Linked DNA regions of Homo sapiens. The protein of the gene in region 1 interacts with the protein of each later gene in a pairwise test. Each region holds a gene or a part of one and is shown in the gene's direction. Other genes may lie near its edges. The genes, in order: EIF4E3 and AANAT.

The links.
Region 2: the proteins of EIF4E3 (region 1) and AANAT interact in binary tests that used the Homo sapiens proteins (3 or more experiments, as listed by UniProt).

Annotation. Positions count from the first base shown.
Region 1 is NC_000003.12:71,668,904-71,684,173, reverse strand, and holds the end of EIF4E3 (eukaryotic translation initiation factor 4E type 3), read left to right. Parts: 3' UTR 1-8,760; downstream 8,761-15,270. UniProt on the Homo sapiens protein: Recognizes and binds the 7-methylguanosine-containing mRNA cap during an early step in the initiation of protein synthesis. May act as an inhibitor of EIF4E1 activity.
Region 2 is NC_000017.11:76,453,739-76,470,667, forward strand, and holds AANAT (serotonin N-acetyltransferase), read left to right. Parts: upstream 1-13,864; 5' UTR 13,865-13,989; intron 13,990-14,933; coding exon of another isoform or gene 14,934-15,008; coding exon 15,009-15,171; intron 15,172-15,378; exon of another isoform or gene 15,379-15,434; coding exon 15,435-15,589; intron 15,590-15,926; coding exon 15,927-16,232; 3' UTR 16,233-16,379; downstream 16,380-16,929. UniProt on the Homo sapiens protein: Controls the night/day rhythm of melatonin production in the pineal gland. Catalyzes the N-acetylation of serotonin into N-acetylserotonin, the penultimate step in the synthesis of melatonin.

The DNA of each region.
Region 1 (15,270 bases):
ACTGTGAGCTGGGCATTGTTTTTTTCTGTCCCAGGGAAAAGAAAAACCATACTTAATGTGATTTTGCACTGACAGCACACAAATCTTTAATTTTCCTTTTTAAAACATTTTTTTTTAGTGATAAAAGGAAAATAATAGTTGGATTGCATAACATGAAAACTATAATCACAATTCAGTATCAGGATATAAATCAAGCTCTAAGTCTTTGGACCCTCTGTGGAAACATTTCTAACCCGAATTTTAATTTGGCCTTTTCAACCAAAGGCTTAGAGTGGTAGCAAGGGATTTCTTCCAATAGGAAACCTGATGTTTCTGATTTAAAGAGAAGGTGATATTTTAATTGTTTGAATTAAGCTCCTTGCAAAGTTCGGGTGTGTTTACCCACTTAGGGCTTTCTTTCCCAGTCAACGCTAACACATTTTGTTAAATGATCCCTTTCCCTGCTCACATTGTGTGTCATTTCTCATCATCAGTAGTCCTCCAGCCTGGGCAGCTGTCCCCACCCTTTTTCATGTAGGTGCAGGAAGTTAAATCTCATTTCCAGGATGCATGTGAACATTTACAAAGTTGAACTTTGAGTGCATTCTGCTCATATGAATTATTGGGATTGTTGATATATATTGTATTATGCTACCAAAGAAATATTGGTTTTATTAGAAGGAAATGGTCATCCTCTGGACCATGGAGACTAGCTCAGAATACGCTGATTTCCCTCTCCTGACTTTGCCAAGCCTTTGGCTGCTTTTGCCTGATAAAGGGCAGGGCCATCTGAAGACACTTCCCCCAGTCGGCTTTGGAGTCACGGGAGCTAGTGCCTGCTCACACATTTTTCAAAAGGGCAGTGCACTCAGAACTTCACTGTACCTGGGATTTTTAATTCCTCTTGCAGTGTTGACCAGCAGAGAGACTTGAGGCTACTTTAAGCCTCCACTATGTGTTTGTAGATAAAATTCTCCATTCAAACATTTTAAAGGACTTTGAACATTATCTGCTTATGGAAGTTGTGCCCTTCACTTGGTTAGTAACCACCTCAGCCATAATACTTACCATCATAGGTTTCTTAAAATGCTTTTTTTTTTTCCCTAAACTTGAGTTTCCTTAGTGATTTCAAAATGAAGTATAAGAATATCAGATCCAGTTAGCAAAAGCCTAGGACTTGTTTCTCCAAACATTGTACTAACATTCAACTTGTTTTAAAATTATGACTCAAGAATTTTAAAAAATTATTCTGGACATGAATTAAAACTTTTTTATAATATAAGTATTTTTCTGATTGAAAAAAGGATATAATTGACTTCACTCTAATTGTCATGTATATTTCCATAAGTAAATGGATTTTGAAGTATTTTTATTTTTTGAACTTTATTTAAAGCATTTGTGATGACATGTTCAACTTTTGCATGTATGTAGCCTTTGAAGTAAAAATAAATAGGAATGTTAGGCTCACGTTAATATTTCTAGTTTCTGTTTATGATCATGGAACATGACTAGCACACAAAGTAGATTTTTGCCCCAGTGAACTTCTGCAACTGTTTCTGACCCTTTAGAAAATACCAACTGTGAGAAGGATTTAATTTGCCTAATGTTAAAAACCTATCATCTAAATTACTTTCAGAGAGGATTTTGTCAGATTTTGGTTTGGAAATTGTTTTAATTGAATATTTAATCATAATAGACTTTGTATGAACTAAGCTGATTTAATCAGTTTAAAAACCTCTCATTACCTTCTTAGATTAAAGAAGCTAATACTGTTTTGAGATAGAAGGAAATATTTTGTGGGGCATGTGACTTTTGTGTTAAGGCAGTTTACCCATCTTGGCTGATGTGGGGAAAGTGCAAACTTCCAGTAGAATCCCGGTCTTTTCATCCAAGTGCTTGCAGGGGCAGCCTTGTAGTCTGCAAAGAACCATGCAGAAACCAAAGAGCTTGCTTTTTTGTCTTTGTAATTCCTTAGGGTCTGTGATATATGCCAGGAAATCTGATTGAAACTAATATGCTTTTTATTCTCCCATTATTCCCTAAATTGTTATATCACAGGCACTTGCCTACATTGGGAAAGTAAGGACAAATAATACCCATTTAAAGTAACTTGCCTATATTTTGACTGTCTTTCGTAAGCACTTGCTGAACTGCTGACTTAACTCAGTTTTAAGATTTCCTCTTTCCCCCCAACTTTTCCACATTTCTTAAATGAGGGTGTAATTTACTGCAAACATGTACATTTAATATAATATTGCTGTTAGATTCGTGGTACACTTTATGAAGCAAAAACATGAAAAGGAAACCACAACTCTAATAAACTTTAAATTAAAGATTAAGATGACTCTTTCTCACCCCTCTTCTTGAGTTTAGCCCATGTCTACACCATGCACACAGTCACAAGACTTTATAGCTTAGAAACTTTAGGTATAATTGGGTCCTATAGACATAATATACAATCCACCAACTGAGCCTTGGCCGAACTTGTCCCTTGTTAAAGACGTAGGGCTAGCCAGCCACAGAGCTGGGTATTGAAGTCGGCAAGTTGTATCCCGGTGCAGGCGTCCTTAAATGGAGAGTACTCAGAATCTGCCAGCCTTAACCTGCCCACTAGCCACCCTAATCAAGCATTAAATATCTGATCCAATCTGGCCACTGGTGTAACTCCGTAATCAGACATCCTGTTTGTAAACAGCTCCTCCTTCTCTCCCTCTCCCTCTCAGAGACAGAAGTGGTGCTGGGGTTTGGAGTTTGAAAATAACCTTCCTATGACAGGAAGTGGGCTTTTGCTATTAGTTGCCCAACTCTTAGAGGATCCCAGCTTGTGTCTTTAGACAAAACTGACAGCCTTTGGAACGATCGCATGGTGGCGCTGCCTTCCAGCCAACAGTTCTGGCTCAGCAGCAGAATTTATCCAGCTATGTTTGTAGAATTTTTTTAAGATCCTACTGCATTTTGCTCTTAAGCTTTTATAAAAATTTGACGAGAAAATGTAAAAATGATACTTGGCAATAAGACATTTAGTTTTCATGCACCTAATAAAAATGTGTCAAAGCTAGATCGCTCCAGATGTGCTTAAAATATCTCAAATCCTAGGCTCTCATTGGCCTTATAAGTGATTGGGAAGAAAAAGAATAAAATAAACTCACATATAGGAGATATGGAAAATATTTCATCAAATATTATGCCCAAAGAGAGAAAATTAGGAGTTGATTTTTTTTAGCACTCTGAATATGGAACTTCCTTTTAAAAATGTAATTCTACCCTTCACCTTTCCTACATTGTATGTTTCTGTGAGATTTTACTCATTACAAGTGAAAGTAGAGGACTGCCTGTGAATTGTTCACTTCTGAAAAGAATATATTGAGATCAGTTAAAATTACTCAAGAGTTTGGTGACTCAGGATTGTAAAAAGCCTGGATCTCAACAGCTGGGAGGAGTCAGAGGGTGAAGTGGGAAAAAATAGGGACTGAGAGGCAACGAAAAGTCCCTTTGAACCTGTGGTCATTTATAGCAATTAGAGTGGGTTGCCCCTCTACTTCTCCCAAGAAGAAATCCCAAATAGATTCCTTTCATGTCAGATTATACTGTTCTGATTTTATTTTCTATTATTTTTACATATACATCCAAATCTAAGAATACTTATTCAGATTGGCCCACTCAGGCCAAAAGTCACTGTCTTGTGTTCTAGAAATTCTTTCATGTTGCTGACATAAATCCATTTTTAAAAGAACATTCAGGGACTCTTAGAATTTTAGAGTGGAAGGGACCTTTGAGATCATCTACCAGTGCTTCTCACCCCTTAGCATGCAGCAAAATCACTCAGATACTTACTTATTATTCACATTTCTTGACCCCAGCACTAGAAATCTGGGAGGATATCTGCATTTTTAACAAGTGCCCTAGTGATTCTAATGCTGATGGTGCTCAGATCGCTCTTGGAGAACCCCTGATTTTATCCAACTCCCACATATGACAAATGAGGAAAGCCTCCCAACCCTAAGCTCTGTCAGGTGACCTGATTCCAATGTATGATACCAACAATCTTATGAAGGCTGGAGAAAACCATTAATACTGAGACTTGAGTAGATGATGCTCGTGAATAAGAACTTTATGGCTGGGACCACAGCAGTCATGGGAGCCCATCCCTGGAAGTCCATAATATAAAGCCTTTAATACAGAGTGGTGGTTTTTCTCTTTTCTAAATACCATTTCAGTCTGTTAAGAGAAAAGAAATTAGTGTTCAGAAAAGTAGTTACTCCATATGTGCAGTAACTACTTTTCTATAATGTCTTATGGCATCTGGGGTTCAGCATCATTGAACAAGATTAAATGAACGTTATAGAGCTATAAAATTGCATGTAAAATAACACAAAACTGTTCAAATGACTATCAAAGTAGCCTGGGAATGAATTTCCACTAAAATTAATTGTCACTTTCAAAACGTAGCTTAGCAAAGCTGTTACTAAACTGGAGAGATCCTTTAATACATAGAAATGTCAAAAAAATCAAATAAGTATTCCCTAAACGATGTGAGTGATAAGCAAAAGTCATTGCAAAGTCAGTATTTTTTTGTTCATCATTGCTACTGAAATTCAGAGTTCCATTGTATATGTGTGTCTTGAGTGTACCTTATTAGAATATCCAATACAATAGCTTTTGGATATTCTATGCTTTTGTGTCCTTCAGAAATCATGAGATTGAAGGAATCTGTGTTAAATGTTTTTGTTTTGGTTGCTGCCTGAAAAAAGTTACCAACTCATTTAGTGAAATGCAAGATTTCTTTATGAAAATTTCAATTTCTAATATCGAAGTCAGATAATTTTTCTTGAACTTTTATTTTGGAACAGATGTTTATTTCGGATCTATTAAAGTGTCAACTTTGCATTATAGAACTGAACATGAAGTAAATTGAGTGTTTCTGAGTTTTCTATAGAAAATTTATGCTACCTCTCATCTTTTCACATACAAATAAGCAACTTTTAATGAAGGCTTAGGGTGAAAATTTTAATTTTAGCACTTTACATTACATGATGAATGGTGAATATTAAAGGACTTTGAACATTTTAATAAACTTACAGTGTTTCTGTTTTCAAATAGAGGTATTGATGCTGTGGATATACATTAAATTCTCCCCAAAGTTCTCAGACTTTAATCAGATAATGTGGCTTACAACCATTGTTTTTGTTTTTAAGTTTTAACACTGTCTTTTCAGTATTCATTTAAAACAAGTCACCATGACTTTGAATATATTCTCATGGAGAATTTATTTCAATGATTATATAAAAGAATTTCAAAATTTAAACTAGTGAGCATACTTTAGCTTGAGACAGCTAACATTATTTGTCCCAAATTTAAAATCTTACATTGAAAGTTATTAATTCTTTAGAATAGTCTTACCTGTGTAAGTTGAACCAGGTTTGTTTGATTATGTTTTGGATCTGCTTGTGCCCCCACCCCCCTATTTTATACCATCTGTGCCCTGTGCAGTTGGGGACCCTTTCACATCTGGCTACAAGCTGGTGTAATGCCCTTCCTTTTGATCTGGCTTCATCTAGTGATTTGCTCAGTATTTTTAAGGTCAGACTGAAAACTTTTCTGTTCTAGTTATTTTTGATTTTATATTGTGTGTTGTGTTTGATGTTCAGATACATGTGAAAGTTGCTTCTATAAGTCAGTATTTTTTATTCCAGCCTTTTGCAGCAATAAGGTAAGACTAGACTATACTTTTCTTACTTGAAAAGGTAGTGATTTATGTGTTTAGTGCAAATGTTTAGACTGTTTTGCAATTTTCTAATTTGGGACTATATTGCTATGAATTTGTGCTTCTTCATTTTTCAGGGTAGTAGTTCACAGGGTTTGTTTAAGTGTTAGTTTGTAGAACTTTATTTTGAGATCTTTTGTAATCTGTTGCTACTAATTCTCATTCTGTATTGAGGTTCTTATAGTATAGAAATGTCATTTTCATCCTCCAGTTTAAAAATTTCATGCAGTTTAATCAACCACATCACTTAATCATTATTAGATTTCCAGTGTGTGTGTGGTGATTAGAATAACCTTGTTTATTACAACACATATTAAAAGTTTCTGTCCAACACCTCTAATATGTGTGACGCTGCTAGCATGGAGTCTGACGCTTAGTAGGTTATCTGGTATTCTGATGGGGAGTAACTGTTGTTATTTTTACACTTCCCTGTTGAACACATTTGATAATAGGGCTCATCTGGGTCTCTTAGAAAACGTATCTTGCTTATTTTAATTCTTTTTCTTTACCCTCTATTAAGAATGGTTCCGTTTTAGAATAAGTCAATTACTCTCGTTGCTCTTTTGTGCTGCAATTTGCTGGTGAGATTCAGTTGTCCCCTGTTTCGGCAAGTAAAGTGAATTTACTCCTCCTTTCTGGCTGTCTAATATATTCCTTTAAAAACAAACAAAACGTACCAACAAACTCTTCTTCCATTCATCTGCAGACTTTCCTATCTCTCCCTGCAGAAACAAGCAATTCAGGATCTTATGTGTGATGCCTAATTAATTTTAACACAGCGAATTTAATGAAATCGTTGAAGAGCAGGGCATAACACTAGGAAGGCTTTAAAATTTCATAATGTTTCCCTCTCATATTTGCATCTGATTACTGCCACCATGCATTCTGTGTGTACTTTATCATCTAGTCGTTATTGATGCACTTTTTGGAATGTGTTCTCGGTTGTTCTATTAGCATAGGTTCCTCTGCCTTGTCACCTAACGTACAGTTTTCTTGGAAGCCAAGACCATGCATGCCTTTTCTTCCTCAGTGATCCTTTCGCTGCAGTAACTGCTATTAAAGAACTTTTAACTGCTTTTCGTTAATGAATGCATAAAAAAATCTCTGGAATCCTACAAGACGATGGTTCTTTTGTTACATGAAGAAAAGAAAAAACAGTAGCATTTGCAAGGGCCAGCAAGTTAAAATATATGTCATTAAAATATGTTTCTATTTCCCATCATCTGGCTAGGCTGTGGTGCTGACTAGCTTATTTCTTGCCAGAGAAAATAAGTTTAAATCATAAGCATATTTAACTAGCAAGCATAAATCATAAATTCTTTATAATCGTAAGCATGTTGAACTCTGGTACCATTTGTACAGATGGCAGGGCTAAATGTGTGTGCTCCTCTAAGCATTAAAGATGTGGACAAGCTCTTACTCCCCAATTTCCTCTTTAACTCAGGAAACTTAAATCATTTGTTTTTTGCACATATAGGATTATATAAAGTATGGACCTAGAGAAAGGTTTCAGATCTTAGGAAACATTTGAGTTTTGTGATTCATGCTTACTGGAAAAGAATGATGGAAGTGAAGGTTAAACACTAAAGCCGTGTCCCCTTTTTAAGGCGAAAATAATTAGTGTTTCATGAAGATAGTCAAGTTATAAAGGACAAGACTGTTTTTCAGAATTTTTTTTTTTTTTTGAAAACAAACATCTTGGAATCCACATTTTAACAGAGGTCCATCAGCTTTCAAAGAGTGTTCCCTAGAAGGGTGGTTCCACAGAAACACTTTCAGATATGGCAAAGTTTTCATTGTAAAATACATTTTAAGAAGTATTTTTAAAAGTGTAATAAAGCAATAACACACAGTGACATGCATCACATGGCCAAATTTTAACATTTTGGAAGCCAGTAAGTATAACTTATGTACTCACTGATTTTGTTTTATGAAATGAAACAAAGGTTTTATAAAACCTTTTTATTGTAAAATAAAGGTACAGAAAACCACACAAAACAAATGTGTAACTTACTGAATTGTTACAAGGAGAACACTCTATAACAGCAGGCCAAGAAATAGAACTTTGCCGGTCACCCCAGGAGCCCTTTCTTGTGTCCCCGCCCTCTCCACTAAAATAACCATTATCCTGACCTACAGGAGACACTTGCATTTCTCTCTGGTTTTATCACAGGTGATAAACATCATTTTACATATAGAATCTTCTCTAACTATGAACGTTGGTTCAGAAAACTTATTTGTAAGTCTTTTAAATGATGAGTGCAAAATGACACACTATAAGCAATTGATACCCCCGTAAGTTAGTAACTGGGCAGAATTTAATGTGCTTTTGCTGTAGTGTGTGGCTCTGTCCATAGCTATAATATCCACAATAACAATAGCATGTATGGAGTTCCATGCCATCTAAGCATAGAGGTTAGTTCTCCCCAACACTCTACGAGGTAGATGCTGTCATTGTTGTCCCCAGTTTGTGTATGTGGAAACATATGCATGAGGTTCAGAGAGGTGAAATAACTTGCCGAAGGTCACACCAGTAGTCAGTTGCAGAACCAAGATACATCTAAGGTACTGTGGCTCCAGCCTGTTCTTCAGTGAGGCTGCCTTGGTGGAAGTTGAAGATATGATGTGCAAGAATTTTGAGATTCCTTATGAGAGTTTGTTTACAAAGAAAAGGTTTTACAGCTTTAAGAAAAAGATGGAAAAATCACTGGCCTAGTTCAAACTTTTCATTTTACAGATGAAGAAATGACCCAGAAAGTATAAAGAATTCGTTCAAGGTCACACAAGTAGTTGGTGGCAAAGTTGCAGCTATATCCCAAATCTCCTGGCTGTTAAAATCAATGATCTTTTCTTCATTCCATATATTATGTGGAAAAAATGCATGTTTTCTAACCTGCTTCTTTGCGACAACTCCATGTAAGCAGATTTGTCTTAAAACCAGTTTATAGCTAGGACACACCATCTACTTGCTTATTTTCTCAAGGTTTTAACTGGGAATTAAAAAATTTATATCTGAAGCTTGCTTTTCTGTCTCACTTATTGAGTGCCCAATCTGCAGACACACATGCCTAACACTCTTCTCCAAAGAATGTACAAGAATAACACATTTGCTGGTGTGGATGGCAGGTGAAAAAGAATTACTGATGTAGCGTGTAGGCCCTTCAACATATTCACGGCCAATTCCGGATTATCCCAGCACAGATGGATCATGCAAAATCCCTCTTCTACTTCTTACTGGTGACCTTTAACTATTTGTGTTTGCAAATGCTTCTACCAGGGATTGGAAAGGAGAAGAGCAGAGAAGATGGAATTTGGTTTCTTGACCAGAATGTTAGGTGTTCTGGTAAAAGGTTTGGTGGTTTTGCCACTTAAGAGTACAGGGAGACCGTAGGATTCTCTCTGGATTTGAACTTGTCCGGGATGCCCAATTTAGCCTTGAATATGAACAATCAGAAAGAAAGCAAACTGACGCAATGCAAAGAGCTTAGTTTGGAATTTGCTTTATTGGGTTGAAATTCTATTCGCTTGTGCCTTGAGCAAGTCCCTCAACATATCTGAGCCCCAGTTTCCTCCTTTTTAGAAGGGCAAGGTAGAGCTTCTTCAAAGCCAGTAACATATGAAGCACCCAGCTCAGCCCTTTGGATGTGGTAAAGAGTTAGTAAATGGTACTTCCATTGGTTGGCTGTATCAATTCATCCATACAGTGAAGAGAATGAACTGCTTCAAGGAAACTTTCCCACTTTCCTCCTCAGGTATTGGCCCAGCTTAACTTGTTTGAGGTCCTACAACAAACAGTGTTGAGGTGGCAACACTGTGGCCAAACCCATTAGTCTTCTAACTGCTTGTTTATGATCTTTCTACCTTATTGTACCATATTGGGAAAAAACAAATCATCCCCATTTACTTGAGTTCTGTGCACTTGACTTCTGCGTTGATTTGCCACAAACCAACTTAAAACCGAAATGAACTTTCCAATTATTTTCTAAGAGCATTATTGCCATCATAACATAAGAAGGAAGTTCAGGGTCGGGCGCAGTGGCTCATGCCTGTAATCTCAGCACTTTGGGAGGCTGAGCTGGGTGGATCACCTGAGGCTGGGAGTTCAAGACCAGCCCGGCCAACATGGTGAAACCCCATCAATACTAAAAATACAAAAATTAGTTGGGCATGGTGGTGCACGACTGTAATTCCAGCTACTCAGGAGGCCGAGGCATAAGAATCACTTGAACCTAGGAGGCAGAGGTTGCAGTCAGCTGGGATTATGCCACTGCACTCCAGCCTGGGCGACACAGCGAGGCGCTGTCTCAAAAAAAAAAAAAAAAAAAAAAAAAAAAAAAAAAGTACAGTTGATGAAAATGTTTTAGAGGCTGAACAAATTCTCACTGAAGCATAAGTCTCCTATTGTCCATCTTGGATTGCAGACACTCAAACTTGTCACTGAGGGGACAATTGTGAGAAGCTCCCAAGAGTTCCCTGTATGATGTGCATATTATGTTTTTTATATATATATATATATATATAATTATTATATTATTATTTTAATCCTGGCTACCTTAAAGGAAAGTTAATAGGCCTTAGTATTGCTGAGATATAGACCATATACAATATTGACTCATTAATTCAACAAATATTTCTTGAACAGCTATGATGTGTTAGGCACTGGGGATACAAAAACAAGACATGACATCATTCCTATTTCATGGAGCTGACAATTTAGTGGATTGGTAAATATTAAAACTGAACTACTAGACTATAAGAAATGCAGGAAGTGTATCTTAGACATTTTTGAGTTGCACATACCTGGCATGTAAGTATGAATGCAATGCATGTTTGAATGAAGGAATGTTTGAATGTTGTCATAAGCGGTGTTTTTTTTTTTAAGTCAAAAACCCCTTAGATTTCTAAAGCTGAGTGTTTTTTTACTAATCTCATTATTGTTTTCAAATTCTCCAATAATAATAATAGCTTAGACACTGAATTCAGTAACCACAGAGGCTGTTTATAATTTGTTGGTGCTTTTTAAACATCTTTGAAAGCCAAACAAGCCCTTGACTCCTGGCCAATAATTCACTGTGTCTTCATGTATATACCTGAGGGGTAGCAGTCATCAAAAGGCCTGTGCACCAGCATGTGAAATATGGGGATCCTTATACTGTGGAATGTATAAAGATTGCTTACTCTGTAATTTTTAAAAGCCCTGTAACTCTTTATAAAGCATATATAGCATCTGAACAAGAAATATGACACTAAGTCTAGGATTAAATAATATCTTGCGGCCACTACCTTATGCATTTTCAGCAGTTTGGGAACTCCACTAAGTGCAGGTCAACAAGCCCAGAGCATCATAAATGAGCATCTGTCCCATGACCCAGCTGGAGACCCCTTCCGATTATTCATTCCAGAAGCACGTGCTGACACCGGGTTCAGCCCTCGTGGCTCTCTCACTCACAGTGGTCTTTTAAGATTGTAGAGAGGTCAAATCCTTCCACCCCCATGCCTTGTGGAGTGGCTAAATGTTTTCTGGGTCTTACTTGCTTTGTAGCCCTGATAACTCTATTTTTTAAATTAAAGTAAACAAAAGAGGGCCCCAGCCAGGGAGCAGTCCAACCCAGAAGACGTGTGTGGAAAAGGTTTAAAAAAAAAAAGAAAAAAGATGTTTTAAATGAGAACAGGCAGCTCTGCGGAGAAGAACTTGTTCGATTCGGCACCACTGCTGTTTCGCCCGCTGACCTGGACTTTGCAGCCCAAGTTCATCCTTCCACTTCAAAGGCCGGGCTCCGAGCAGATCACACGTTTTACTTGATGACAAATTAATCAAACTTGATTTCTTGGATGAGATGGATACAAAAGAACTACAACTCCCCAAGGCCTGAAAGTCAATACAGCCCTTCTGGCTCTGATTAGGGTAACAAAAGGATATCTGAGAGCCATCTTCCTCCCTGCTCAGGCTGTGGGATGGAACTAAAAGCAAGCCGGGCTTGTAAAGGAGAAAGGCCTTATTAAAACACATTTCAGCTGCAACCAAGTGCATGGCGAGCCCTCCTGACAAGAGAAAATTACTTTTTAGTAGATGCTCACCTTTTCTCAAGAGCAAAGTTTCCACTTAGAAGAACCTAGAGGAAGTAGTATATTATGAATCTGAAATGTTTATAGATCTCGCCTTTTATGTTTCTGCTGTGAAGATGAGGTTAAAAAAAATCGCCCGGTGATATCTGGCAAATGTTAGAGAGAGCCCACGTTTGGTTAAGTAAACTTACTTCTGCTGGGTTAAAAATGAAACTCCCCAAGTCCAGGGAATTTATGTACCTGTTAAGGCAGGACTAGGACAAGGTAAAGTAATGGCTTCAAAATGCAACTGCTCTGGGGCCACTCCGGCAGCCCACTCATGTGAGAGGGCGAAATAAGCCTTCTGCTAAATCGGGGAGCGCAGGATTTCAATGCAAAACCCTCTTAGCAGCTTTGTCATCCTCCTGTTCTGCGGAGCATCCAAGGACATCGCTTGCATCCTTCTTGTGATTGCTCTATGGTCTATATTTAGAAGAATTGCTGTTGCACAAAATATGGTCCCCTGACTGTTCTGGGGGTGCTTCATGTCCTTCCCAAAAAGGCTTCCAAAAAAAAAAATGGAGGGTTTATACCTTTATAGCACAATTTTTAAAAGAAGGCCCTGATGAGTGTTTCCTTTAATATGTGGGCAGCATGCACAAATCTATATACCGTGGGATCTTATTTTGTAAGTTTGTGGGATCTGCTTCCACGCAGCCGCCCCGCCGCCCGGAGAGTAGGGAATGAGGCGAGGGATGGTTAAGTATGCGGAGTGAAGTTGGGTCACACGGGCCCATCTCTCATTTCTGACACTCAGTTTGAAGATCCTTCAAGTGTCTTTCTGATCCTGACAGGCAGTTTTTAAAATGTTTGTGGCATTCCAAGACGCTTAATAATTTAAAGCTGTATTTTAGATTCCAGCAATGAGCACAATACCCCGAGAGTTAGCCCTCCCCCTGCGAGCGGCTCCGGATGCTGCCATGCTGTCTCTCCCACTCTTCTCCGACACGGGTGCTCCAAGCCGCGGCCAGCCAAGCCCCTGGTCTCTCTGCAGCCCTCTGCTGGGCCCCCTCCTGCTCACCCGGTAGGGATGCTCTGAGGGTGAGCCAAGGCCCCCTCCTCCCCAAAGCCTGTTCTCTGCTCTCCAGCAGAGAAGAGCTTCCTTTCCTGCAACAGAGAGGGCACTTGAGTTTTCTTTTAGCCTCCTCTATGGCCTTCGACTCATTCCACGCATAGTGTGTATGGCCATTGTAAGTGTGGCACTAGATTAAGGGTTCCCAGGCCTTCTCCCACCTTTACATCACACACAGCTCTGCACACAGAGGTTCAGCTGTTAGATGAGTTGAAGGAGCAACATTCCCACCAGCTCATCCGAGATCCCATCTTAGGAAACCCATTCTCCGCGCTTGGGGGATTGCTGTTTTGGTTTGCGAAGTGAGAAGACTGGCTTCCTCAGCCTTACACCCCAACTTGCTAGTCTTGTGACCTTAAGTGAGCCACCTAACTTCTGAGTCTCAGTTTCTTCATCTGAGTCACAGGAATAGTGAATTCTCCCACCACAGAGTGTGAAGATTAAATGAGACAATGCACGCGAAGGCTCTTTTCGTGCTATCCAGTGTTTCTCATGGATAGATCTTGATAGTAATGCTTCATGGTACCACAGTGGTCTGACCAAGGTGGGCCTGTTTTTGAGATACGTGGCCAGTTGTTTTAAAATTCCATTCTACAGTAGAATCCAGAAACCTCTCAATTTCCACAAAGACCCCCATTGTTAAGGACAAAAGTAATACCTGCTTATTTTAACAAAAACAATACCAGTAGCTAGCTTCCTCTCCCCACCAAAAACTTTTTTTTATTCCTAAGTCGTACTTGTAGGAAATACAGTGCTTATAGATATCTAAAGACACGGAAGAAAGTTGGGCTGCTTGGGGCTGAGACGAGGGCCGTGGCTGGGGCCACGGGGGTTGGGGGGGTGCAATGGAGGAGATTTAGGAAGGAAGGTTACTAAATGGGAAAAAGGAGGGGCAAAAGAAATGCAGCGAGCCTTGCGAAGAGGCACCTACCTTATCTCAAGTGGTACAACAGATATTTACTTGCAAAAGCTGTCTCCTCCCCATGTGTAGGAAATTTTCTAAAGAAAATGTAGCCACCATGTTTCATTTATGTGAGTATCTCCAACACCTGGAAGACTTTTGTACCAGGAGGTGAGGTTTGAGGACAGGTAAAATCTACCAGAGCCCCCTGACGTTCGACAGTTTAGAAACCCACCTATAGGTAATTAAGTAAGTCACTAGTCCCGCTGATAGACAAATATTCCTTATCTTCACACGATAAGGCAGAAATGGTTGGGCCTGTAGAAACTTCACTGAAGGTTTGTGGTTTTAAATCCAGTTGTTCTTGTCAGTGTTGTGTCTTGTCCTCAAGGACGGTTTATGCCTCTTGTGTTTATGTAGCAGAATTATAGTCTCCAGGACAGGAGCTGTGCAGTATGAATAGTTTCTACTGGACATTTTGCTAGAAAGTATGTGTCAAATTCTAAGAGTTCAAAAATGAGAGTTGATTGCTTTGATCTTCTCCTTTTTTTGTTCTGCTAAATAATCTATGTCTCTCTGCCCATGTGGAGACTCCAGACAGAGCAGCCCTAGAATGTCACTCAAAATAAAACAGCAAAGGTTGAAGTCATGTTTAGGCCTTCACCGAGACGTTGAGTAGTTGAGAGTGTTCCCTTGTGTTACCAGAGTCTGGGAAGATTTCTGCCCATAAAAATGCATCAGTGACTTGTGATTATAACATACCCCCCTTCTAACAAATCTCAATAGCCATTTAACGTATCCATTTGTATATTTCATTCTAAACACAATTTTAAAATCTTACATGTTGCAGACAAAACACTTAGTTCAAAAATTCAATTGTTGGGGGACAAAATGTATTTATCCATGACGATACAGGTTTTGAAAGCGGCTCCTGTTTTTATTATTATTAATATTATACTTTAAGTTCTGGGATACATGTGCAGAACATGCAGGTTTGTTACATAGGTATACATGTGCCATGGTGGTTTGCTACACCCATCAACCCGTCATCTACCTTAGGTATTTCTCCTAATGCTATCCCTTCCCCTTGCCCCCCACCCCCCAACAGGCCCCGGTGTGTGATAGTCCCCTCCCTGTGCCCTGCCCATATGTTCTCACTGTTCAACTCCCACTTATAAGTGAGAACATGTGGTGTTTGGTTTTCTGTTCCTGTGTTAGTTTGCTGAGAATGATGGTTTCCAGCTTCATCCATGTCCCTGCAAAGGACATGAACTCATGCTTTTTTTATGGCTGCATAGTATTCCATGGTGCATATGTGCCACATTTTCTTTATCCAGTCTATCACTGATGGGCATTTGGGTTGGTACCAAGTTTTTGCTATTGTGAACAGTGCTGCAATAAACATATGTGTGCATGTGTCTTTATAGTAGAATGATTTATAATCCTTTG
Region 2 (16,929 bases), on another chromosome or scaffold:
CTCAGAAGTTGACCCAGAAGCTGGTGAAGGAGGCCCAGAGAAAGGTAACAAAAGGATCAGTGGTCCCAGTGGTTTGGCTACAAATCCATGCAGATAAATTCAAAGCTCCCTGAAGCCAAGAATGAATGGCAAGAGGTAGTATAGTAAGGTAGCTAAGAGTGGGGACCACGGATTCCAATTTTTGGCACTGCCACTTACTAATCTATAAAAATAGGCACACTGATTAACTTATTTTCATCTTAATTTGCTCATCTGTGAAATAGGGATGATAATAGCAATACTCATCTCATTGGGCAATTGGAGGATTAAGTGAAGTAGAACAGTGCCTGGCATTTAGCTCCTTCGATAAGCTTAACCATTGTTGTACTATTTCCAAACTCCCTGCCTAGACTAAATTCCAGACTGGCAGAACTGTTATGGTCTGCTCCATATTGTCATTTTAAAATATAAAAAGTAGGCCGGGCGCGGCAGCTCACACCTGTCATCCCAGTACTTTGGGAGGCTGAGGTGGGCGGATCACGAGGTCAAGAGATTGAGACCATCCTGGCCAACATGGCGAAACCCCATCTCTACTAAAAATACGGAAAAAAAAAAAAAATAGCTGGGCGTGGTGGCACATGGCTGTAGTCCCAGCTACTCAGGAGGCTGAGGCAGGCAAATCGCTTGAACCTGGGAGGCTGAGGTTGCAGTGAGCCCAGATCGCGCCACTGCACTCCACCCTGGGCAACAGAGCAAGACTCTGTCTCAAAAAAATAAATAAATAAAAATAAATAAAATATAAAAAGTAACTCTAGGGCCAGGCGTGGTGGCTCATGCCTGTAATCCCAGCACTTTGGGAGGCAGAAGCAGATGGATCACCTGATCACCTGAGGTCAGGAGTTCAAGACCGCCCTGGCCAACATGGCGAAATCCCTTCTCTACTAAAAGTACAAAAATTAGCTGGGCGTGGTGGTGTGCACCTGTAGTCCCAGCTACTTGGGAGGCTGAGGCAGGAGAATTGCTTGAATCTGGGAGGCAGAAGTTGCAGTGAGCCGAGATCATGCCACTACACTCCAGCCTTGGCAACAGAGCAGGACTCTGTCTCAAAAAACAAAAAACAAAAAAAAGGCTGGATGTGGTGGCTCTTGCCTGTAATCCCAGCACTTTGGGAGACCGAGGCGGGTGGGAGACCCGAGGTCAGGAGTTCAAGACCAGCCTGGCCAAGATGGTGAAACCCTGTCTCTACTAAAAATACAAAAATTAGCCGGGCGCGGTGGCAGCCGCCTGTAATCCCAGCTACTCGGAAGGCTGAGGCAGGAGAATCACTTGAACCTGGGGAGTGGAGGTTGTAGTGAGCCTAGATCGCGCCGCTGCACTCCAGCCTGGGCGACAGAGTGAGATTCCGTCTCAAAAAAAAGTAACTCTAGGCCGGGCACAGTGGCTCACGCCTGAAATCCCAACACTTTGACTGCGCCTGAAATCCCAACACTTTGGGATGCCAAGGTGGGTGGATCAGTTGAGGTCAGGAGTTCAAAACTAGCCTGGCCAACATGGCAAAACCCCATGTCTACTAAAAATCCAAAATTAGCTGGGCAAGGTGGCAGGCGCCTGTAATTCCAGCTACTTGGGAGGCTGAGACACGAGAACCACTTGAACCTGGGGGTTGGAGGTTGCAGTGAGCCTAGATCACACCACTGCACTCCAGCTTGGGTGACAGAGTGAGACTCTATCTCAAAAGAAAAAAACTAACTCTAATTTAATGTGTCACCTAAGTTTCAAAGGGTTTAGATACATTCTCAGAGGACAGATTTAAATGGATTGTTAAGGAAAACAAGATCTGGCCCTAACCTTTCTCAGTCAACATCATTTTTTCCACATTTTTCTACACGATCATCAACGAAAGACTAGTAAGTTGGATATTACAGTATTTAGGTTCTTCAAAGAAGGCAGAATCCCAGCTCTTTGTGTTGTTTACAGGATCCTGAAGATACAGAACTATGTTCATAGAAAAGTTGGTTGGGTGTGGTGGCTCACATCTGTAATCCCAGCACTTTGGGAGGCCAAGGCAGATGGATCATTTGAAGTCAGGAGTTCAAGAGCACCCTGGCCAACATGGTGAAACCCCGTCTCTGCTAAAAACACAAAATTAGCCAGGTGTAGTGGCGCATGCTTGTAGTCCCAGCTACTCGGGAGGCTGATGCAGGAGAATCGCTTGAACCCGGGAGCAGGAGGTTACAGTGAGCCAAGAACACATCACTGCACTCCAGCCTGGGCGACAGAGCGAGACTGCGTCTCAAAAAAAGAGAGAGAAAAGTTAAAAGAACATGCACAAGGTCGGGCACGGTGGCTCACGCCTGTAATCCCAGCACTTTGGGAGGCTGAGGCAGGCGGATCACTTGAGGTGAGGAGTTCAAGACCAGCCTAACCAACATGGAGAAACCCCATCTCTACTAAAAATACAAAATTAGCCAGGCATGGTAGCCCATGCCTGTAATCCCAGCTACTCAGGAGGCTGAGGCAGGAGAATCACTTGAACCCGGGAGGTGGAGGTTGTGGTGAGCCAAGATCGAGCCATTGAACTCCAGCATGGGCAACAAGAGCAAAACTCCATCTCAGGAAAAAAAAAAAAAAAAAGAACATGCACAAAACAGATGGCAGCCTAAGTACTTAAGATGTCTTAGGCCAAGTACTAATAGAGTATTGATGTAATATTGGGATCAGGGTGGTTGTCAATGGACCCAAATCTTAGAAAATTTATCTACTAAGATATAGAACAAATGGGCTGAATCAGCTGAAGGGGGAGTTAGGATATGATTTTGGGGCAAGGCTGGGTTCTCAAACCATGGCCTTCCCATCCCAGAACACAATGCCAAATGACCATCTGGAATCACTGCTGTAAGGACGCAGGTCCCTACTCCCTCTCCTGTAGAGACCTGGGAGATTAAACAGCAGTAACATAGTAGCTTCTGTTCTGCCTCCCATGACCCTTTCAGCCCTGTTTTCTTGCCCCCTGATAACATAGCATTTATTAAGCACATATTATTGACCAGGCATTGTACCAGGTACTTCCAAGCACATTATCTTGTCTGTTATCACAATCTTGGATATAGAGAGTTTTTAACCTCATTTTACCAATGAAGAAATAGGGCCCAAGGAATTTGGCGCCTAAGGTAACAGGTAGTAACCTGAGGAGTTTCCCCACTCTAAGGGCAGGGGCTTTTGTAGTTATGCTATTTCTTTAGGCTTCCCTCAGAAGAACTCCTGATTGCACAGGGGAGTCCATGTGTCTATGTGTCCCACGGCGGGATAAGGCAGTGCAGACCTCAAATCTGCTTTTTGTTTCATGGCAGGGTCTCACTCTGTCGCCCATGCTGGAGTGCAGTAGCGTGATCTTGACTCACTGCAACCTCCGTCTCCCAGGTTCCAGCGATTCTCCTGCCTCAGCCTCCTGAGTAGCTGGGATTACAGGCGCCCACCACCACGGCTGGCTAATTTTTGTATTTTTAGTAGAGACGGGGTTTACCATGTTGGCCAGGCTGGTCTCGAACTCCTGACCTCAAATGATCCACCCGCCTTGCCCTCCCAAAGTGTTGGGATTACAGGCATAAGCCACCGCACCCGGCCTCAAATCTGCTTTTGTTGTCAAAAAATCAAGTGAGTTTTGCATTGTACTCCAGAGTATGCCTATGTTTGTTGTTTTAATGTAAAAACTAATGCCCTTTCCTCCCTAATCATTGAGTAATATCGGCACTCCTGGAAGACGTGTTGTGTTTATTCTGCGGCTTCTTGTAATAATGGCTAATAATAGCTATCACTTATTGAGCTGTAACTTCATGCCAGATACTCTACTAAGTGCTTTACATAGATTATCAGGATACTGCCAGGTTGGAGGTAAGACTCCTTGATTTTACATGCTGATCTCTCCCTCACTAGACTAAACCCTTAAGCATGTGGACCATGTTGTATTTGTGTGTGTAACCCTGGTGCCTAGGACAGTACCTGGCATAGGGATGGAGCTCAATAATGTGTCGTATTAGGCTAGGCCCATACAGTGGCTCACGCCTGTAATCCCAGCATTTTGGGAGGCCAAGGTGGGTGGATCACCTGAGGTCAGGAGCTTGAGACCTGGCCAACATGGCAAAACCATATCTCTACTAAATATACAAAAATTAGCCAGGCTTGGTGGCGGGCGCCTGAAATCCCAGCTACTCAGGAGGCTGAGGCTGGAGAATCACTTGAACCCGGGAGGCGGAGGCTGCAGTGAGCTGAGATTGTGCCACTGCACTTCAGCCTGGGAGATAGAGCAAGACTCCGTCTTGAAAAAGAAAAAAAGAAAATTATCATGTTAGCGGATATCAAAGGCCTGAGAACCTGTACCTCCATTCTGTCAGTTTCCTATCCTTTTTCCAACAACCAAAAGTTGAAGAAGCTGGGACAGAGCTGCCCTCTTTGGCTGCTCCAAATCCTTTCAAGTGCCCCCAGTTTCAACTGCATCTGAGCTGCTTTAGAGAATGAGACTCAGTAAATTCCTACCCATCCGATGGTGTCTTTTATGGACCTCACTCAGACCCAAGATGCTCTGGATAAGGTTTGAGGCTTGACTCCTTCCCAGACCCTGAGCCCCCAGCCACGGTCTCCATACACTCAGGCTGGCTAGCAGGGTAAGTGTGGATGGAAGCCGCTGCTTAGTTTTTATTTTTGTCATTGTTGAGGTGTAGGAAGGAGGAAAAAAACTTGATTCCCTAATGAAGAAACCCTCTCTTATCATGGCCCCATCTCCCAGCCTTTCGTGGGGAATAGAGCTATTTCTTGGGAGGATTTCACTTATTTATAAATGTGCTTCCAGAAACTGAGCTGGTCTGGCCTCTCCCCTTGCTAAGTGGGGTGGGTGGTGTGCAGGAGGCGGCAGAGCCAGCAGCAGAGTGAACTGGTCTCAGGGAAGCAGGCCCTGTCTCGTCCCTATCTTAACCAGCCACTGGAGCACCTCTCTGGACCCACAAAGTATGCTCAGGCCCAACACTGCCCTCTGCGGGAGCCTGCTTGGCCTCTCCATTGCTGTGCAAGCGATTTCAGCCTGGCCCAAAGAGCTCCTTCCACCCTGGAGCAGGTGTTTGGGAAGGCTAGGGTGCCTTAGGCACTGGGGACTTCAGCTGGGGGGTGGGGTGGGAGGTGAGCTGCCTTGGGAAACCCCCCACACCCTCATGTGGCTGGCTGAAGAAATGCCTCCGAGGCTCCAGCTGAATGCCGCTCAAGGCTTTTGGAGTTAAAACGGCCCTTCTCATTCCTGGAGCCTCACCTGCTCCTTGCACAGGTGCCCTGGGAAAACTGTGGGACTTGCCCAAGGTCACTCTGCAGTACAGTCAGGATCAGGACCCAGCCCAGCTGGCCCTTGGCCATTCTGACTCCTGCTGTGAGGGTGGGTTGCAATCCACTGGGCAAAACACTTTATGCTGGGGCAACAGTGAAAAGTTTGAGCAATAGTGACAGCATAGGATCACCAGGTTCGTCCTGTTTCCCTCCTTCCTGAAGATACAGGGTGAGGCACAGTGAATCTGCTGGACCAGCTTCAAGAACAATATGTCAGCCTATCCACTGCCACCTCCCACAGCTCCAGACTCGTGGGTGCTTCCTGGATGTGACCAGCCATAGGTACAAAGTAGACTCATCATCTTTTCCTCAAATAGTTTCTTCTCCCAGAGTTCTCATCCTGATGGATGGCAGTATCACTTACCTGGGTACTGAGCTGGCCACCTGAGGGTCAGCCCTCACTCTTAAGCTCTACATGCAATCAAAGCCTGGGTCTTGGCCCCTCACTGCCTTTTCACACCCTTCCTGTCCAGAGCTGCCCCACCAGGGGGGCAGATCCATGGAGATGTGGGGAGGTGGGAGGTACAGTGGCTGAGAGTGAGCTTCCGGAGTCACAGGGACCTGGGTTTGAAGCTTGTGCTGCTGCTGGTCACTATGTGACCTTGGGCAAGTTATTTTACTCTCTAAGCCTCAGTTTCCTTTCTGTAAGGTGGGAATAATAATAATACCTACTTCATAGGACTGTGGAGACTGTAACTGACCAACTGAATATAACGTGCTTTGCCCAGTGAGTGCATGATGGCAGGCCTGATAACATTAGCTTTTCTTAGGAATTCATTTCCATCTCTTGCCTAGACCTCGGCTGTAGGCCCCTCACCAGGCCCCAGGCCGTCTAATCTGTCTGCTGCCTTGTTCCCAGGGTGACTGAAAATGCAAGCACGGTCATTGGACTCTTGGCTTTATATCTTTCTGTGGCTCCCCAGGGTCCACCCAAGAAGGTGCATGTGGCCTTTCATAAACTGATCTGATCCTTCCAACCCCCCTTCCCCCTCTGCATCCAGCATGGAGTGCTCTGTGCTCCAGCCTCAGTCACCTACTTCAGGAAATTTTTTTTTTTTTTTTTTTTTTTTTTTTTTTTTTTTGAGACAGAGTCTCTCTCTGTTGCTCAGGCTGGAGTGTCCTGGCAGGACCTCGACTCACTGCAACCTCCGCATCCCGGGTTCAAGACATTCTTGTGCCTCAGCCTTCTGAGTAGCTGGGATTACAAATGCCCCACCACCACACCTGGGTAATTTTTTTGTATTTTTAGTAGAGATGGGGTTTTGCCATGTTGGCCAGGCTGGTCTCAAACTCCTGACCTCAGGTGATCCACCTGCCTCGGCCTCCCAAAGTGCTGGGATTACAGGCATGAGCCACCAAGCTTGGCCTGTTTTTTATTTTTTTATTAAAAAAAATAATAGAGAGAAGGTCTCACTATATTGGCCGGACTGGTCTTGAACTCCTTGGGCTCAAGCGATCCTCCTGCCTTGGCCTCCCAAAGTGCCAGGATTATAGGCATGAGCCACCGTGCCCAGCCTCTTTTGGCTTTTTAAAATGTGGCTACTAGAACATTTAAAATCACATGTGGGGCTCACACAATCTTACTATTGGGCAGTTTGGCTCCATTACTTGGGGAGCCGTAGGTCCCTTCTTTGTCCAGGAGGTGGCAATCCCTCCCTGCCTTGGATGCTTCCATTCCAGAATGGTCTGGAAGGTTCCTGAGGTAAGTGCCTATCTAATACGGCGATATTGAGCCCCAAATAAGGCAGGGTCCCACTCAGCCCTGCCTTTGAGTCACCCACCTCAACGGAAGACTCTGGGCCGGGCGTGGTGGCTCATGCCTATAATCCCAGCAATTTGGGAGGCTGAGGGGGGCAGATTGTTTGAGGTCAGGAGTTTGAGACTGGCCTGGCCAACATGGTGAAACCCCGTCTCTACTAAAAATACAAAAAATAGCCAGGCGTGGTGGCATGTGCCTGTAATCCCAGCTACTCAGGAGGCTGAGGCAGGAGAATTGCTTGAACCCGGGAGGCGGGGGTTTCAGTGAGCCGAAATCGCGCCACTGCACTCCAGCCTGGGCGACAGAGTGAGATTCCATCTTAAAAAAAAAACAAAAACAAAAACAAAAAAACAGAAGACTGTGCCTCTAGCTGATAGGCACCTGCTCTGTGGGTGGCACGATGCCACATTCTCAACCCAGCCTCTGTTTTCCAGGAGTGCATAAGCCTCTTGGGGGGACAGGTGTGTAGTGGATGCTGTGGTGCACCTCCCCATCACATCCCTCTCCAAACACTGCCCTTGGCTAAAAGAAGATGCCTCCCCCAACCACTGACTGTCTGTAAGGGGCACAAAGCCTGGCCAACATGGTGAAACCCCGTCTCTATTAAAAATGCAAAATTTGCTGGGTATGGTGGTGGGCACCTGTAATCCCAGCTACTTGGGAGGCTGAGGCAGGAGAATTACTTGAACCTGGGAAGTGGAGGTTGGTGAACTGAGATTGTGCCACTGCACTCCAGCCTGGGTGACAGAGTGAGCCTCCACCAAAAAAAAAAAAAAAAAAAAAAAAAGGAAGGAAGGAAGGAAGAAATCAATCAATCAATCAATCAGTCAGTGGTGGGTGCAACATCTCAGGTGTCTGAGAGGTACAGGGATGGAGTAAGTGTAAGGACTGGGGGGCTGGATGGCTGTTGGGGCAGTCAGTGCAGAGGAGAAAGGCAGTCAGAGGCTGGGGGTGAAGAATCACTGCTTGAAGGCAAAGTGGAAAAGCCAGAGGGCCTCCTTGGCAGCATGTAAAGAAACTCGCCTCCTGAAGTTAAGGAACAGAGAGAAGTCAGCATGGCAGAGCCTGAGAGCAGGTTGAATTCCCAACCTTAATGAGTCAGCGATACAGAGGAGGCCCCTGGGGAGAAGCGGGAGCCATCCAGGGACAGAGGTTAGTGCCCCTCCTTCCTTGGGGACAATGCCTCTTCCTTAGGAGACATGTACTACCCCCTTCCCAACCCTGAGTATATACTGCACCTCCTCTTCTTGCACTGGGCCAGTAACTAGGGCTAAATCGCAACCTCACCTACTGGTGAAGTGCTGGGTCGGCTAAGGGAGGAAGGAGGCTCTGTCCTGAAGGAGCTGCAGGTCCCAGCCAGAGCCAGGAGAGTGGGGACTGGAATCAGAGGATGCTGGCTGGGCCAAGGGGATCAGAGCATAAAGTTGGATAAGGAACGTGTGTTGGTATGGGAGCTCTTTTCCCTGTTACAGAATTTATCACCCTGGCAAGGACCCTGGTACTTGGAAGCTTGGAGAAAGTGATTCAGGGCTCTTACCCGCAGTGGGCAGGACTGCTGACGGCTCCCAGCTGGATTTTCCTGCAACTGCCCTCAATGAAGCAAGCTGTTCCACCCAAGGTTGATGCAGGACAAAGAGGTGGGTCCAGAAGGGCTTCCCAAGTCTGAAGCTCCTCGGGGGATGCGCCAAGGCCTCGGTTACAGCTGCACCATCACGGCTCAGCTTCCACTGTCCAGCCCTCTGCCCTGCTCCATGGTAGGGGTCGCTCATGAGACCTCTCCCCAATAAACTTGCCGCACACAGTTCTCCATCTCTCATCCCCCGGGGAGCCTGCCACGTGGTAGTACTCAGGCTGGAAAGGTAAAGACGATAACGCGAGATGTGCTCAGTGCCAGGTCTGTGGGGCAGACCTTTAGTGCAGGGGAGGAGTTGAGAGAGAAAGTGACCATCGAAACCACCAAAAAAATGCAGCCATTGCACAAGAGCCTGAAGAGAGGGCTATGCTTCCTGCACGCCGGGCCTCTCAACTGCTCTGCATGGAAAACCGGTATCTCAGAGGCATCGTCAAGGTGTCCCTGGGACATGGCCATGGGGCCCACTCCTTGGTCTGCCCCAAATGGGCTCCCTTCAGTCTGGGTGTGAAACTGGGCAGCTGACACACGGAGGGGAGGGGGTGTGTCTCCATGCGGGAAGCTCCCAGATTCCAGGTCCAGGGCTTCTGCACTGGGCCCGGTGGGGATGCTCACTGCCCCTGCACCAGGCTCTCCGGGGGTATCAGCAGCTGCAGCAGGCTCGGTGCCCGGGATGGGGTGGGGGCCGTGGGGAGGTTTTCTCCAACCCCCGGCCGTGGCAGCGAGTCAGTGTGCCTTTAATCAACGGCCTCTGCACTCCACCTCTCACTGTCACCATTAAGGCCATTCCTCTGCATCTGGCCTCTCCACCCATTTCTCCCTTCTGGAAGGATTCCTTTTTTTTTTTTTTTTGAGATACAGTCTTGCTCTGTGGCCCAAGTTGGAGTGCAGTGGTGCAATCTTGGCTCACTGCAACCTCTGCCTCCTGGGTTCCAGCAATTCTCCTGCCTCAGCCTCCCGAGTAGCTGGGATTACAGGCACCCACCACCACGCCCAGATCATTTTTGTATTTTTAGTAGAGACGGGGTTTCACCATGTTAGCCAGACTGCTATTGAACTCCTGACCTCGAGCTATCCACCCACCTCAGCCTCCTAAAGTGCTGGGATTACAGGTGTGAGCCACCGTGCCCGGCCTTTTCTGGAAGGATTCTTAAAGGTCATCGGAGCCTCCCTGTTGGCAGAATCTGAGATCTGTTCTCCATTCTTTGTGGCATTTCAGGCTCTATCTGCCCCATTTCTTGGACATTCTCCCCTGGGTTCTTCCCTTCTTGTGGCTTCACCTGTGTTCCTGTTAATAACTCCTTTCCCTGCTAACAGTGGACATCCCAAAAGCTTGGTTCTCAGCTTTCGTGTGGTGATACACATCCTCTCAGAACCTTTTTTACTGTCATGATATCAGTTATCCGCTCAATAACTGTCGTCATCATCCTCACCACATCTGATTAGGAGTGGGATGGGGGCTCTGATGGGTCAGAGGTGAGGCTCTACCAGGGCAGGTGGGGAGTTAGGTAGCATGGTCCCTGGCAGTTCTCTGTGTGCCCTGGACAACCCCTCTCCAAACTGCTATAGAATATTCTGGAGTCCTGCCTGGGTGCGGTGGCTCACGCCTGTAATCCCAACACTTTAGGAGGCTGAGGCAGGTGGATCACCTGAGTTCAGGAGTTTGAGACCAGCCTGACCAATATGGCGAAAGCCCATCTCTAGGAAAAATAAAAAAAATTAGCCAGGCATGGTGGTGTGCGCCCGTAATCCCAGCTACTTGGGAGGCTAAGGCAGGAGAATTGCTTGAACCTGGGAGGCGGAGGTTGCAGTGAGCCGAGATTGTGCCATTGCACTCCAGCCTGGGCCACAGAGCAAGACTCTGTCTTAAAAAAAAAAAAAAAAAGAATATTCTGGAGTCTTGAAGTGGAAGCCCAGTCACAGACCATGATTTTCATGGGACCGAAGAGCCTTTTGGGAGAAAACTGAACCCCATCTGGCATTTGAAATGTGTAAATCTGTCTGGGAGATCGAAAGAGGCCAGGCTGGGTGGAGAGACAGGGGGACCCCTGAGGGGAGCCATCATGGGTGAGGCAGGGTGGCATGGTACACACTGGGCAGGGAGTCGCGGTGGGTGAGTTGTGGATACAGGACTTTCAAGGGAGCTGCTGCTGGAGGGAGAGGCTGGGAACAAAGAGCCTCGGCCTCCCAAAGTGCTGGGATTACAGGCATGAGCCACGACGTCAAGCCATTTCTGTGGTTTACAGTCATCCAGTTTGTGTATCATCTGTTACAGCACCCCTGGGAAACATACAGATGCCAGCTTCTCCCTGTCTGTATCTATATATTTTTTTTTTTTGAGATAGCAGTTTCACTCTTTTTGCCCAGGCTGGAGTACAATGGCACGATCTTGGCTCACTGCAACCTCTGCTTCCTGGGTTCAAGCAATTCTCCTGCCTCAGCCTCCCAAGTGGCTGGGATTACAAGCGCCCACCACCACACCTGGCTGATTTTTTGTATTTTTAGTAGAGACGGAGTTTCACCATATTGGCCAGGCTGGTCTCGAACTCTTGACCTCAGGTGATCCACCCGCCTCAGCCTCCCAAAGTGCTGGGATTACAGGCATGAGCCACCGTGCCCGGCCTTGCCCATCAGGTTAGGTGTTTATCAGCTGTCTAGAGTGACTGAACAGGTACGACTTGGGGGGCAAAGGACACATTCTCCCCCCCATCCCCAAGATCCACCTGAGAGGCAGTCACCAGAGGCGTTGCCAGCACTCTTAACTGCAATAGCAGGACAAGACTGGGCATCTGATAAACAGTGCAATCGGTGTCCCTGGCGTGAGGATGATCTCGGAGGTGCTTCTTTTTTAGAGCCCACCTGAGGTCAGGATTTTTTTTTTTTTTTTTGAGACAACATCTTGCTCAGTTACCCAGGCTGGAGTGCAGTGGCTCATCACTGCAGCCTGAACCACCTAGGCTCAAGTGATCTTCCCACCTCAGCCTCCCAAGTAGCTGGGGCTACAGGTGTGTGCCACCATGCTTGGCTGATTTTTAAATTTTTTGTAGAGACAGGGGTCTTGCTATGTTGCCCAGGCTGGTCTCAAACTCCTGGGCTCAAGTGATCCTCCTGCCTTGGCCTCCCAAAGTGCTGGGATTACAGGTGTGAGCCACTATGCCCAGCCCCAGGGATCTCCTTCTCTCTGTACCCATCACCCTGTTGGGCCCCTCACCCTCCTTATTTTCCTTCTCATTGGTGGTGGTATGTGGTTTTCTTCCTGTTGACCAGGACAAAGGTCCCAGCGATCACCCTGCCCTCCCCTGTCTCCTCTCCTGTCCCACAAGGGTTTGAACTTCCCAGTTTCACCATGTTTAACATACCGCCTCATCTTTAAAAAAAATTTATTTTTATTTGTATTTTTTTGAGACAGGGTCTCGCTCTGTCGCCCAGGCTGGAGTGCAGTGGCGAGTCACTACAGCCTCGACCTCTCCGGCTCAAGCCATCCTCCCGTCTCTGTCTCCCAAAGTGCTGGGATTACAGCGGTGAGCCACTGTGCCTGGCTTACTGCCTCATCTTGTTCCCTGAGGTTCTAGACCTCTAGGGTGTTGTCCGGAAAGAACAGGGCCATGTGGAAGTCAGCAAAGAGAGAGGCCGATTGAACAGCAGGCTCTTCTCAGGCATCGCCAAGTGACTGATTAGGATTGGCCACCAGGGGGTGCCATGGAGCCACAGTCTATGAAGGGACAGAAGAGGCCTTTTGGGGGACCCTGGAGGTTGAAGGTGGGGATGCCCAGCTGAGGTCTTGGACATGACCACCCCACCAACCAAGCCCAAGGAGGTCTCTGGTCGGTCCTGAGAGGTCTGTTGAGGGTCCCTTCTAGCAGGCAGGTGGGCCTCAGAGTGCAGAGGGGCCCTGGGAGAAGGGGACCCAGAGACAGGAGGAATGCATGTGGTGGGTGGGCGGGGGCATCGGGACGGGGTCACTCCACGGTCAGGGGCTGTGTCCCAAACCGTATGGGTAGGAACAGGAGCTTCCTCTGCGGGGGGGTCGAAAGAGTGCACCTGTGAGGACACTGAAAACCAGCAGGAGAATCATGAAGACAGGAAACAGGAGTCTCATTGTGAGATGAGTGGGTCCCACCAGTGCAGCCGTGGCAGTGCATGTCAGGAGGCTGACCCGGCTTTGCCCCTCCCCCTTCACTTGTTGGATGGCTCTGAGCAGGTTACTGAACCTGTCTGTGCCTCGGTTTCCTTCTCTATAACGTGGTTAATACTCATTTGGCCGGGCTTCCGTGTGGATTAAAGGAGACGCGTATCCAGGGCCCGGCACATAGCAAGTGCTGTAAGCAGTGGCACTCACAGGCTGCCAGGACAGGAAGGACCCTCAGAGGTCCGTCCCAAGCTGTGTGGGTAGGAGCAGAAGCTTCCTCTGCAGGGGGTCAAAAGAGTGCACCTGTGAAATCCAACCTCCAGGACCCCCAGGAGCCCGAGATGGACACAGGATCTGCACTGCTGGGTGGGGCGGAGAGGCAGGTGCTGGCGAGAGAAGAGCTAAGGGGTGCAGGATGGGGTGTGAGCTGGAGGGCAGGGGGTAGTCAGAGCCAACAGGGAGAGGGGCCTGCATCCCGAGGGAATGCCAGCACCAAGTGCCAAGGCCTGGGCAGCCCTGGGAATGGGTGGAGCCAAGGTCAATAGCAGAGAGCTTTGTAGTTGAGATGTTTGGTAGGGCAACCTCCTGAATATTTAAATATTTAATTAAATTAAATATTTAAATAAACTTGAAGTAGAACGTACTTAAAGTGCACAAATTGGTAGCTTGAATTCCCACCCCCTCCCCCCACATAAGAGGTGGGCTTGTCCAAGACTCCGAGGGACAGAGGGAGAATCGCTGGTGCCCAGCCAGTCGGTGACAGAGCAGGGATTAGAGATGGACCCCTGAGGCTTAGCCCCACGCTCTCTTCCCCAAACCCTGGGGCCTCAGTCAGCCTCTGGTAATCCCTTCTGTGCCCAGGGCACCAGAGCTGACGTTTCCCTTCAGCAAGGCAGGGGCCGAGGCTGCCAGAGCCCTGCTGGCGTCATCCTGCCTGGGATAGCTCGAGAGGTGGGGTGGGGGGATTACAAACCTCTAACAGCACCACAGGCTGCCCGGGGAACATCTGCTACTACAGCCTTGCAGCCCGGAGTCCCGGATTTTACTGGTTCCCGTGCCTGCGGACAGGCCCCCAGGGCTAGCGGCTTTGTGGAGGGAACACTGGGTATCCTCTCCACAGTCCAGGTAGGTGGGACCCCCACTCCTGGCTCTCAGCCTTTAGGAACAGGAGCTTCTCTACTTGGAGCTTCTAGACATGGAGGGAAACATGGAAGCCATGGAGTTTATTAAGTGTCTTGGAAGGTGGAGGGAGGGATGGCCTCCTCTAAGAACTGCAAATCTGCAGGGTGTCTTGGGAGACAAGAGTGCCCAGAGGGGAATGTCTGATGAGCTGGATGTGTGGGGCAGGGGGTGTCCTATGCACTCTCCTTGCCTGCTCCTCCCCATTCCCCAGGCCCTCTGCAGCCCCCGGCTCCCTCTAACCTCCCCACCCCCCACCACAAATCCTGCATGTGTGTGGCCCAGTCTGAGGCCATCTGGATAGAAGTAGAGGCTCCCTAAGGGCCCACTTTGATTAAGGGGCTCTCTAGGACCAAGGGCTGAGGCTACCTAAAAAGCTCTCTGCCACAGGATCTTGCACCCAAAGGACCAGAAGCCTCCCTCTGGGGAGGTAAGATAAACCACATGAATGGTGGTGTGGGGGAACCGGGCGCCCACCCACTGCACAGTTGCATTAGACGTGGTCAGTGGAGGGTCACGAGTCCTGCCTCCCCTCCCACCGTGGGCAGCAGGGTTGGGGTGCCCCAGGCTCCACTGAGCCCTGCTCATCCCTGCCACCATCTCTGGGGCTCAGAAGCACCCAGACGGCACCCTGAGACCAATGTCTGCAGGTCTGCAAGGTGGCAAACCTCCAGGGATCCTTCTGGCTGAGAGGGAAAGGTGGGGAGACAGTGCCAATGTTTGCAATGCCTGGTAACAGCCTCGGGGACCAGGTACCTGGGGAATGTGCCCATTGATTTAGGGGCTGTCTCCACCCCAGTTCCTGCTACAAAAGAGGCCAGATACATACTCTGGGGCCTGCCTCCCTGGAGATGAGGATGAGACCCCTGTCCCTTGCTGTTCTCCAACAGGTGCTGGGAGGCCCTCCTTGGCTTAGGAGGACACTTCCAAAGCTGGGGCGCCCCAAGGAGGCACCAGTGGCCAGAATGTCCACGCAGAGCACCCACCCCCTGAAACCTGAGGCCCCACGTCTGCCACCTGGGATCCCCGAGTCCCCGAGCTGTCAGCGGCGCCACACACTCCCTGCCAGTGAGTTTCGCTGCCTCACCCCGGAGGACGCTGTCAGCGCCTTTGAGATCGAGCGTGAAGGTGAGTGGCCCCGCACAGGGTCAGAGGGATGCTCCACTCTGGTCCAGTTATCCTGTGGGGAGGAGACCCTTAGTCTCCTGTCCTTGGAGGCTGGGTCCCAGAGTATCAGACCATGTGTGCGCTCAAGAAAGTGGGGGAAACAGCAGCCCTAACCCCCATTTTCCTGTGGGGAACGGGGCATCTGAGTGGACACTCGGGGTGCAGCAGACAGTGGACGCGAGGCACAGCGACTACCAGTCACCCACCTGAGCCTCCTGCCACAGCCTTCATCTCCGTCTTGGGCGTCTGCCCCCTGTACCTGGATGAGATCCGGCACTTCCTGACCCTATGTCCAGAGCTGTCCCTGGGCTGGTTCGAGGAGGGCTGCCTTGTGGCCTTCATCATCGGCTCGCTCTGGGACAAGGAGAGACTCATGCAGGTGAGGACAGGGCTGCGACGCCCAGCTCCAGGGAGGCCTCTGAAGACAGAGGTCAGCCAGATGGCGGGGAGGGGAGCCCAGGGGCTGGGATTTCTTCCTCCAGAACTGGAGAGATGAGTACAGGCCACAGGCCCCTCCCAGAGCAAGACCTTCTGGGTCTTCAAGTTTTCTCCATGGGGTTGGGGGTATGGCTCCCAATTTGGGGCCCTCCTTTGCTGGGGTGGGTGCCCTGACCACAGGCACCCAGGGGACACCTGCTCCCTGCCTGGGTTGGTGGTTGGGGGGGAGCACGTGTCAGCAGAAGTGACCTGGGATCTCATCCCTTGCTCGCTCCCAGGAGTCACTGACGCTGCACAGGTCTGGGGGCCACATAGCCCACCTGCATGTGCTGGCCGTGCACCGCGCCTTCCGGCAGCAGGGCAGGGGCCCCATCCTGCTGTGGCGCTACCTGCACCACCTGGGCAGCCAGCCGGCCGTGCGCCGGGCCGCGCTCATGTGCGAGGACGCGCTGGTACCCTTCTATGAGAGGTTCAGCTTCCACGCCGTGGGCCCCTGCGCCATCACCGTGGGCTCCCTCACCTTCATGGAGCTCCACTGCTCCCTGCGGGGCCACCCCTTCCTGCGCAGGAACAGCGGCTGCTGAACTGGGCTGCCCACCTGGCTGCCAACATGATCCCCGTCTCTGCCCTGGGCTCCTCTTAGCTCAGCTGAGCATGGAGACAGCAGTTTCCAGAGAGTGGAGAGAGCAGGGCTAAATAAAGAGGAGATAAGGTGGCTTCTCACGGCCTGAGCTGGAGTGGTGTGTCTTGTCTGTCCCCACGAGGCCTCTGGACCTCCTGTGTTCTGAACTCTGTACCTGAGACCGGGCTGGGTTGGTAAGCGGGGACAATGGGAGGTGCTGTGGGGTTCCTGGCTCCTTTCCTCCTGGCAGGTGGGCAAAGGCACCAAGGCGGCATCCTCACAGTAGCCCATTGCTCGGTGGGGGGGGGGGGTGTCCTTATTCTCCCCAGCCTCATGGATGCCGCTTCCCACCCTTAGCCCCTAGGGTGGGGGAGAGTGGGGAGCAGCAGGATGGGGCAGAGGCGGGAGGCCTGTGCTGTAGAGGCAGCTTGGGGCAGGGAAGCTGGTGCAGGGCCCTCTGCCCATGGTAATCAAGTGGTCATACCCGGTGCCTCACTGGCCATCCTCAGTGTGGTGGGTGAGGCACTGGCACAGGGAGTGGACTCGTCCCCGGGTGGGGTGACAGGTCCCCTCAGTGCCATCCCCATCAGGGCAGGCCACCCTGGGCCCAGGCAGCCCCTTCCCTGCTCTGGAGCCAAGGCAGAACAGGTAGGGGTGGG